2 linked regions of the Homo sapiens genome follow. The protein of the gene in region 1 purifies or fractionates together with the protein of each later gene. This does not show direct contact. Each region holds a gene or a part of one and is shown in the gene's direction. Other genes may lie near its edges. The genes, in order: TEDC2 and RAI14.

Region 1 (4,294 bases):
TGCCCCTGGGCATGTGTGAGCCTCAGTTTCCTCATCTGTAAGGGGGGCAATGATACCTACCTCACAGGGGTGTTGTGAGGATTAAATGTGAGGAGGATAGTGGCAGATGAGTGATGGACGTCCTTCACTGCCTCGGCCCCTTGTCCAGGGGCTCTTAATCCCAACTCTGCATGGAGTCAGTTCTCTGCTTTCTCCCAGCTTGCACCTGAAGGAGGAAACCACTCCAGGGGGACCTGGCCCCGCCTGCCTGTGGTGGGTGGGTTCCTGCATCACCCACCTGCTGACTGAGCATTTCCCTGCCTCCTCCTTCACAGAGAATCTCCAGGGAGGCAGGGCCACCGTCACCCTCCCCCACCGCTGATGGAGGGGCCCACCCGGAGCGCTGGGCCAGAGCTGCCTGGGTCCCAACCTCCCTGACAACTCCCTTTGTGCCCTCCTTCCCCTCTGCGATGGCACCTTCCCATTAACGACTATGGAATGGACTCACCTGTCCCATCTTTAAACAGCAACCCCAGGCTCTGTTTTTCTTTCAGCTACCGCCTGGGATTTCTTGCCCCCTAATTGTTTATTCTTGTTAACACCAACTACATGGGGCCCTGCTGCCTTCCTCACTTCCTCCCTCAGGTGTCCCCCGCATCACCGAAGGCCCTGTACCCCCGCCCCCCTGCTGTGCTGTGTACACCGCCGAGGCCTCAGCAGCACTTGGCCTGTGACCCACTCCCTCCCGTGACAGCCTCCTGTTGCCTCTGTGACACTGTCCTACTGCTCCTCCACCTCCCTGGCCATTGCGTGGGCCCCGTGATCTGTCCCTACCCGTCCCCTGCCCCACCAGGGGCCACCTCGCCTGGCCCACTGCTCCAAGGTCTGAGCTTCCTCCCCTCTGCCCAGTGCTATCACGTCACATGTCCAAAAGTGAACACTTTCTCCTCCTTCATCCCCGCCCCTGACACGCGGAATCCTCACCTCCAGCAACCCCGTCCTGTCCCTGTGCTCGGTGGCCCAGGCGTCAGCAAGACGGCTGGTCCCTGCGTTAAGAGCACTTTCAATAAGGACAGATGGAGCCTCTCGTATAACCTTCACCGGCCCCCTGCAAGAGAAGCGCGATAATGGCGCCCCCATCTACCCAGTTACCCAAACCAAAATCCCGGCGTCGCCCGCAGTCACCTCCCTGGCGGCCTCGGGGGCCCAGCTCCGAGCCGGAGTCCCCGTCAGACCTGGGAGGCAGGAGTGGGCGGGGCTTGAGGCTTGCCCGCAAGGAGGGAGAGAAAGCTTCGGGGGCGGCCCCTGAGCCCCGGTTCAGGATTGGGCAGCCCGGCCGGGAAGGGGCGGCCTTCCCTCCCGGAAGGGGCGTGGCTCTTCAGAGGCGGCAAATTGCAAGGAGACGCCGCCGCCTTCATGCTGCCGGCGGGCTGCTCGCGCCGGTGAGGCCTGCGCGGCAGGAGGGGGTGGGAGGATGCGGGCGGGCCGGTAGCCAGGCGCGGGGCCCGAGGCCCGACGCTGGCCGAGGTGCTGAGCCGCCGGTGCGTCCCCCAGGCTGGTGGCCGAGCTGCAGGGCGCCCTGGACGCCTGCGCACAGCGACAATTGCAATTGGAGCAGAGCCTGCGCGTTTGCCGTCGGCTGCTGCATGCCTGGTACGCGGACCCCGGACCCACTGGCCAGACCTCCCTCGGGCCCTCAGAGTCCCGCCCCGAGCGCCCAGGGCTGGGAGACCGGGCGCAGCCGCCCACTTCGGAGCTGTGGGTTGTCAGTGCCACCCTCCTTACCCTGCAGGCTCTGAGCTGGGGGCCTGCCGCGGGGCCCGGCGGCCCCCTCGGGTCTGTTTGGGCTGGGCCCTGCCTCCTGGCCGTGCGACGGCTGCCCGTGTCTTTGCAGGGAACCAACTGGGACCCGGGCTTTGAAGCCACCTCCAGGGCCAGAAACTAATGGAGAGGACCCCCTTCCAGGTAAACCTCCACCACCCGCCTTCTCCAGGTGCTGCTCTGGCCTGTCTGCTGGCGTGCAGTTGTGAGGAACCCTCCTGGGGGACAGTGGGGAGAGATCCCTGCATAATTCTTGGCTTTCACAGCATGCACACCCAGTCCACAAGACCTCAAAGAGTTGGAGTTTCTGACCCAGGCACTGGAGAAGGCTGTACGAGTTCGAAGAGGCATCACTAAGGCCGGAGAGAGAGACAAGGCCCCCAGCCTGAAATCTAGGTCCATTGTCACCTCTTCTGGCACGACAGCCTCCGCCCCACCGCATTCCCCAGGCCAAGCTGGTGGCCATGCTTCAGACACGAGACCCACCAAGGGCCTCCGCCAGACCACGGTGCCTGCCAAGGGCCACCCTGAGCGCCGGCTGCTGTCAGTGGGGGATGGGACCCGTGTTGGGATGGGAGCCCGAACCCCCAGGCCTGGGGCGGGCCTCAGGGACCAGCAAATGGCCCCATCCGCTGCTCCTCAGGCCCCAGAAGCCTTCACACTCAAGGAGAAGGGGTAGGTTTCCCGGACCCTCACTGGAGGGACTTCTGTCTCTGCCTCCTCAGACCCTGGCTAGCAAGGAGCCTGGGATTTGGGGTGACAGGGAAGGCAGGGCATCGAGCCCTGTGGCATACCCCTGAGGCTCATGCTCAGAAGCTGGCAGAATGAAGCAGCTGTGTGGTGGTGTCCAGGTTGGCACCATCAGGTCAGGGAAGTACTGGAGCCTGTCCTCCTCTCTTCTCTGTGGCTGTCCCCTTATTTGCCCAGGCCAGAGGCTCCAGATGGGCTCTGGAGGGCGTGGGATCTGCTCACAGGGCCCCGCTCACAGGGCCCCCTCTTCTCTCTAATGGGGCAGCACTGGACGATGCTTCTCCTATGGCCACTCTGGAAGCCCTATCCAAGGGGGCTCATCCTTGGTGGGGTCGGGTGTGGGAGAGGGGCAAGAAGCCTCATCCCTGATTGGGCTCTGAGCAGGAAGTGGGACTTGTAGACCCCAGAGCAAGGCGATGCTCCTCTGAACACGGGCTTCTCCGACAGGCACCTGCTGCGGCTGCCTGCGGCATTCAGGAAAGCAGCTTCCCAGAACTCGAGGTGAGGCTGAGGTCTTTGGCTGGACGGGGGTAGGGGAGAACCGGGAGGCATCACCAGCTCGGGGACAGGTTCGAGATACTTTCCAGTGGGTCTCTTTGTCCTCTTTGCTGAGTGGGATCACTGTCGATGTTAAAAATCTGCCAGCCGGTCAGCTTTGTCCCCTTGTCCTAGTCAGTGTCCTCTTGGTTCCCTGCGGCCTCTGGAGGCCCCTCCTGGCATTCAGCAGAGCCAGACGCCCAGCCTGGGGTCCCCACCCTGGCCCTTGCCTACCTCCCAAGGCCCAGCTTACTGGCTGGAATAACCGTGTCCCTCTGTGGTTCCTCTGTGCACCCCACGTGTGCACCCCAGCCTGTGGGCCCAGCTCAGTTCCACACAGACCAGTGATTCCACGGATGCCGCCGCTGCCAAAACCCAGTTCCTCCAGAACATGCAGACAGCTGTATCCTTGCTGGGCTTGTGGGAGCCCTGGGGGCCTCTAGCTCTGAACCTGGCAGGTTTGCAGAGCAGCCCCAGGAGGGGCTGGCGTGGGATGGCCAGGGCCACTCCCCAGGCCCCGTTCTTGGTGGGAGCAGAGGGGCTTTGGCTGCAGGGAAGTTTTCCTGACCCATATCCAGTCAGGCGGGCCCCAGCCCAGGCTCAGTGCTGTGGAGGTGGAGGCGGAGGCGGGGCGCCTGCGGAAGGCCTGCTCGCTGCTGAGACTGCGCATGAGGGAGGAGCTCTCGGCAGGTCAGTGGGTCCTGGGTCTGTATCAGGAGGAGTGTGGAGGGCCAGTGCAGGGAGGGTTTCCAGACTGCCACGGGCCCCACCTGCTCTCCCTGACTCTTCTGCAGCCCCCATGGACTGGATGCAGGAGTACCGCTGCCTGCTCACGCTGGAGGGGCTGCAGGCCATGGTGGGCCAGTGTCTGCACAGGCTGCAGGAGCTGCGTGCAGGTGAGACCCCGCCCCCACCCTGCCACCTGCACTGAGGTCTGGGCCGGGGACAGGGTGCTTTAGCCAGGCTTGTCTGCGCCTCAGGGAAGGGTGAGCAGCCCAGGGACCAGATGCAAGTTGGTGGGCCCCTCCACCCCTCCCACGCCACTCCCCAGTGTGCTGGGTCCTCACCAGTCGTCCTATGGGAGCAGTCAGCCTTCCTCTCCTCCTCAGGGCAGCTCTCCCACCTCGCTGCTCCCCGCACACAGAACCTCATTGCTCTGAGCAGTTGCTTATTCACCCAGTTGTTGAAAAACTAGCATGTGAGGGCC
Region 2 (3,810 bases), on another chromosome or scaffold:
TATTTCCTATATAGGTATATTTATTTCTACGGCTATACATGTTTTCTACCATCAATGTAATTACAAATAAAGCTTAATTTCTTGATTTTTAAAAATAAGTCTAAATAGAAATTTTACTACTTTCTTTCTGCACTTGGATAACTTCTACGTAGAATCTCCCAACTTTGAAGACCATTACTAGGCTATTTTAACTTCACCAGGCTACTTTGAGAATAAATTTATATACCTATCACATGGTTCTGTCATGGGGTTATATTTCATGTTGCAGCATGAGAACTGACATGCATACACTTATATTTGATGGAGATGCTGTGAAGTGACTAGATAGAATCTGTAAATAAATTCATATTCCTTGAAGTTCAGTACTTCCTAAGCAGAAAGTAGTATAACTTCACAGAGATAGTGCCCAGAAATCTATCTGAAATTCTTTATGACAATACTCAATCTTTAAGTAGCACTTGTATTTTTAAATAGTTGGATATATTGTAACATCTTTTCCCTTTGCCTATTGAATGCTTCTACCTTAAAACTCACTGTCGATGGATTTATAGGGTATATTCCAGAAAAAAAACAAAATAACAACTTCTCTTTATGGTTTGTGTCAGACCTAAGATTACAAAAAATACTTATGTATATTCTTCTAGTATTTTTCATCATTTGTTTTATATTGTAATGTTTAAATGCTTAATCCACCTGACATAGTTTGTATATGAGTTGGAGACCTAGATTTCCTTTTTCCCAAAGGGGTTGCAATTGTCATGACATAATTATTCTTTCTATCCATTTCTTTATCTAGTCATGTGTTAGTAACAGACATAGGCTCTTAATTTATGTTATATTTTGATACATAGCAAGATTACTAAAGGGTACACTTTCGGTAAAAGTGGAATGGCAGGATATATAATGATTAGTGCACTGGGAATAAGCTGCCTACAGGGCAGTGGGATCTTCTGGTGTCGTGCGGAGACACGCCCTTCCTTTCTCCAGCACCGTCCCTCAGTATACCCGGTACACTTGCCTTGAGCCTTTACACACTTTGTGTTCTGTCCTCTCTCACAGTCACCCAAACAGTGATAGCCAAGGGCATAAGCAGCCGCAAGAAGCTGGAGCTCCTATGTAAAAGCTAGCATTCAGTAAAATTCCATAACAAGAGTTGTGCCAACATACAATCGTGACTCTATAGGGGTACAGAATATCAGGTTGGACCAGATACTAGATCAGCAGTCAGCAGTCCAAGTCAGGAGAAAAATGTGCAAAAAACAGGGGCTGACTTTTGCAATTCTGGCATTTTGTGCCTGAGGTAAAATCTAAATCTGAATTTGTCTCCTAGGATGGGAATATACCGCTGCTTCTTGCTGTACAAAATGGTCACAGTGAGATCTGTCACTTTCTCCTGGATCATGGAGCAGATGTCAATTCCAGGAACAAAAGTGGAAGGTACTCCAGAATTAGGCAGAAATCATGTGACTTCAGTGATACCCACATTCTGAGAGTATTTCAAAATATCACAGCTATATTTTGGATCATTTGTTATAAGGGATTTTTAACTTCTTACCTTTTTAAAGTTCTACTGTTTCTGATAATCAAGAATCTATGTTGACTTTAAAGCAATTTTCCCCAGACATCTGTGGACATCATTGCTGGCTAAGTCTGTGAGGAGACTATTAAATGCTAATGTGAATAAACAATTTCCTGTGACTTTCTATGCAAAATAAAACAAACCTATTGGTTGTTTTGGAGAAATGGTCTTAGAAATATATATGTTATTTAAAATGCTTGAGGTAAAACAAGGATAAGATTCATGCCAGTCATATTAAATCCCATCATATTATGCCAAATAGTATAGAAGATTGTGTTGTTTGACAAAATGTGGTTTAATGTTTTGATTTAATCTGAAGTTTAAAAAAAAAAAAAACCACCTAATTTCATCTTGATTGCATTCCACTTCGAATTCCCTGAAGATTAAGTGTAATAAAGGTTTAACTGCACTTAATCTTCTTTTCTCTTTTTTTAAGACAACTGATTTCCCAAGAAAGACTTTTTACATTCTCTTAGTACTAATTTTGTGTCTCTTTTTTCCTTTAGAACTGCTCTCATGCTGGCCTGTGAGATTGGCAGCTCTAACGCTGTGGAAGCCTTAATTAAAAAGGGTGCAGACCTAAACCTTGTAGATTCTCTTGGATACAATGCCTTACATTATTCCAAACTCTCAGAAAATGCAGGAATTCAAAGCCTTCTATTATCAAAAATCTCTCAGGATGCTGGTATGTAAAAGAAAATAGCCAATGTTGTTTTAAGTTTATCCACTCCATTTTCCCCAAAGGATAAAGGAATGTGTGCAATATGATATATTTTATTATTCTTTTAAACATATTCTTGAAAAAAAAAGGAGTGTTAAAAAATATTGTATATGGTGTATGTGTGTGTATCCCCCCACCCAAAGTGAATATGAATCATTATGCTTCTTATAGTTCTTTTTTTCACTTTTTCCTCTATAGATTTAAAGACCCCAACAAAACCAAAGCAGGTATTTATCTTTGGGGGAGGCTTCTATGTTTCATTTATGCTTGTGGGAATTTAAAAATGTTCAGATTTAACCACTCTGGTCCACTAGTAAAGTAATAAAGACTATATTGAAAATACTTAGGGACTGAAATATCTTTGAATAAATAAGTCATTGTTATAAGGTGTTAAAGGTTGCCAGGCCGGGCCGGTGGCTCACGCCTGTAATCCCAGCACTTTGGGAGGCCGAGGCTGGTGGATCACCTGAGGTCGGGAGTTCAAGACCACCCTGACCAACATGGAGAAACCCCGCCTCTACTAATATTACAATATTAGCCGGGCATGGTGGTGCGTGCCTGTAATCCCAGCTGCTCGGGAGGCTGAGGCAGGAGAATCACTTGAACCCAGGAGGCAGAGGTTGCGGTGAGCTGAGATTGCACGATTGCACTCCATCCTGGGCAACAAGAGTGAAACTCCGTCTCAAAAAAAAAAGGTGGTAAAGCTTTCCTTAATAATTTGCTTTATTTCAAAAGCATGTAACTTTAAACTTGCTACTTATATGTTCATCTTTTTCTGAAATGTACTAACTCATACTTCCTATTGGTGTGAAAATGTTTGATGTGGCTTAAACTCTGTGACTGAATAACACTGTTTTAAATACTTGTAATATCACATGAGCTACAGAGCTTCAGCCAGAAAATGTTAGCTATTTAATGAAAATAAGAGAATTTAGCCTTTTCTTTTAATTAGGGTTTTTCTAGAACGTCATGTGGTGTTACACAAAGTAGAAATTGAGTTTGCCCTGTTATTGTGTAGTTTTTTCTAAAAATATATTGTCACTATCTGTTTTTTTGATGAACAGTATATGTTTGGTTGTTTATTTATTTACACATCTACGTTCTTGAAGAAATCATAAACAGCAAATACTCAATACTAAATTTATGTGCTAACTGTATTACTTACCAGTAACCTTCAAAAATGAAGTTATCCCTTTCCCTCATATTTATAGTCTTTAAAAAAAGGAATGGAAGTAATGCAGACGTGTGGGAAATACCATTGCTTTTCATTAATACAGAAAGCTGGCTGTGATTGTATTCTGGATTCTAAGTTGTAGTAGACCTCAACCTCTACTTTCCCAGTTCTCCACACCAACCTAATCTGGTTTTGTCTCATGTGTTTTTATTTTCTTGCTATTAAAGCATGGGCTGCTAGGAGAATACTTGTGCATGCATATTATTTATTTTTATGTTGGTAGCAGATTTCAGATTTTGATAAAGTAAGAAATGTATGAACTTTTGAGGTTTTTCT

The links.
Region 2: the proteins of TEDC2 (region 1) and RAI14 purify together in Homo sapiens (affinity purification with mass spectrometry; one large-scale study listed by BioGRID and IntAct). This does not show direct contact.

Annotation. Positions count from the first base shown.
Region 1 is NC_000016.10:2,458,750-2,463,043, forward strand, and holds the start of TEDC2 (tubulin epsilon and delta complex protein 2), read left to right. Parts: upstream 1-1,359; 5' UTR 1,360-1,395; coding exon 1,396-1,421; intron 1,422-1,533; coding exon 1,534-1,632; intron 1,633-1,873; coding exon 1,874-1,944; intron 1,945-2,066; coding exon 2,067-2,475; intron 2,476-2,997; coding exon 2,998-3,051; intron 3,052-3,399; coding exon 3,400-3,490; intron 3,491-3,665; coding exon 3,666-3,777; intron 3,778-3,881; coding exon 3,882-3,983; intron 3,984-4,294. UniProt on the Homo sapiens protein: Acts as a positive regulator of ciliary hedgehog signaling. Required for centriole stability.
Region 2 is NC_000005.10:34,809,682-34,813,491, forward strand, and holds part of RAI14 (ankycorbin), read left to right. Parts: intron 1-1,330; coding exon 1,331-1,437; intron 1,438-2,085; coding exon 2,086-2,264; intron 2,265-2,498; coding exon 2,499-2,527; intron 2,528-3,810. UniProt on the Homo sapiens protein: Plays a role in actin regulation at the ectoplasmic specialization, a type of cell junction specific to testis. Important for establishment of sperm polarity and normal spermatid adhesion.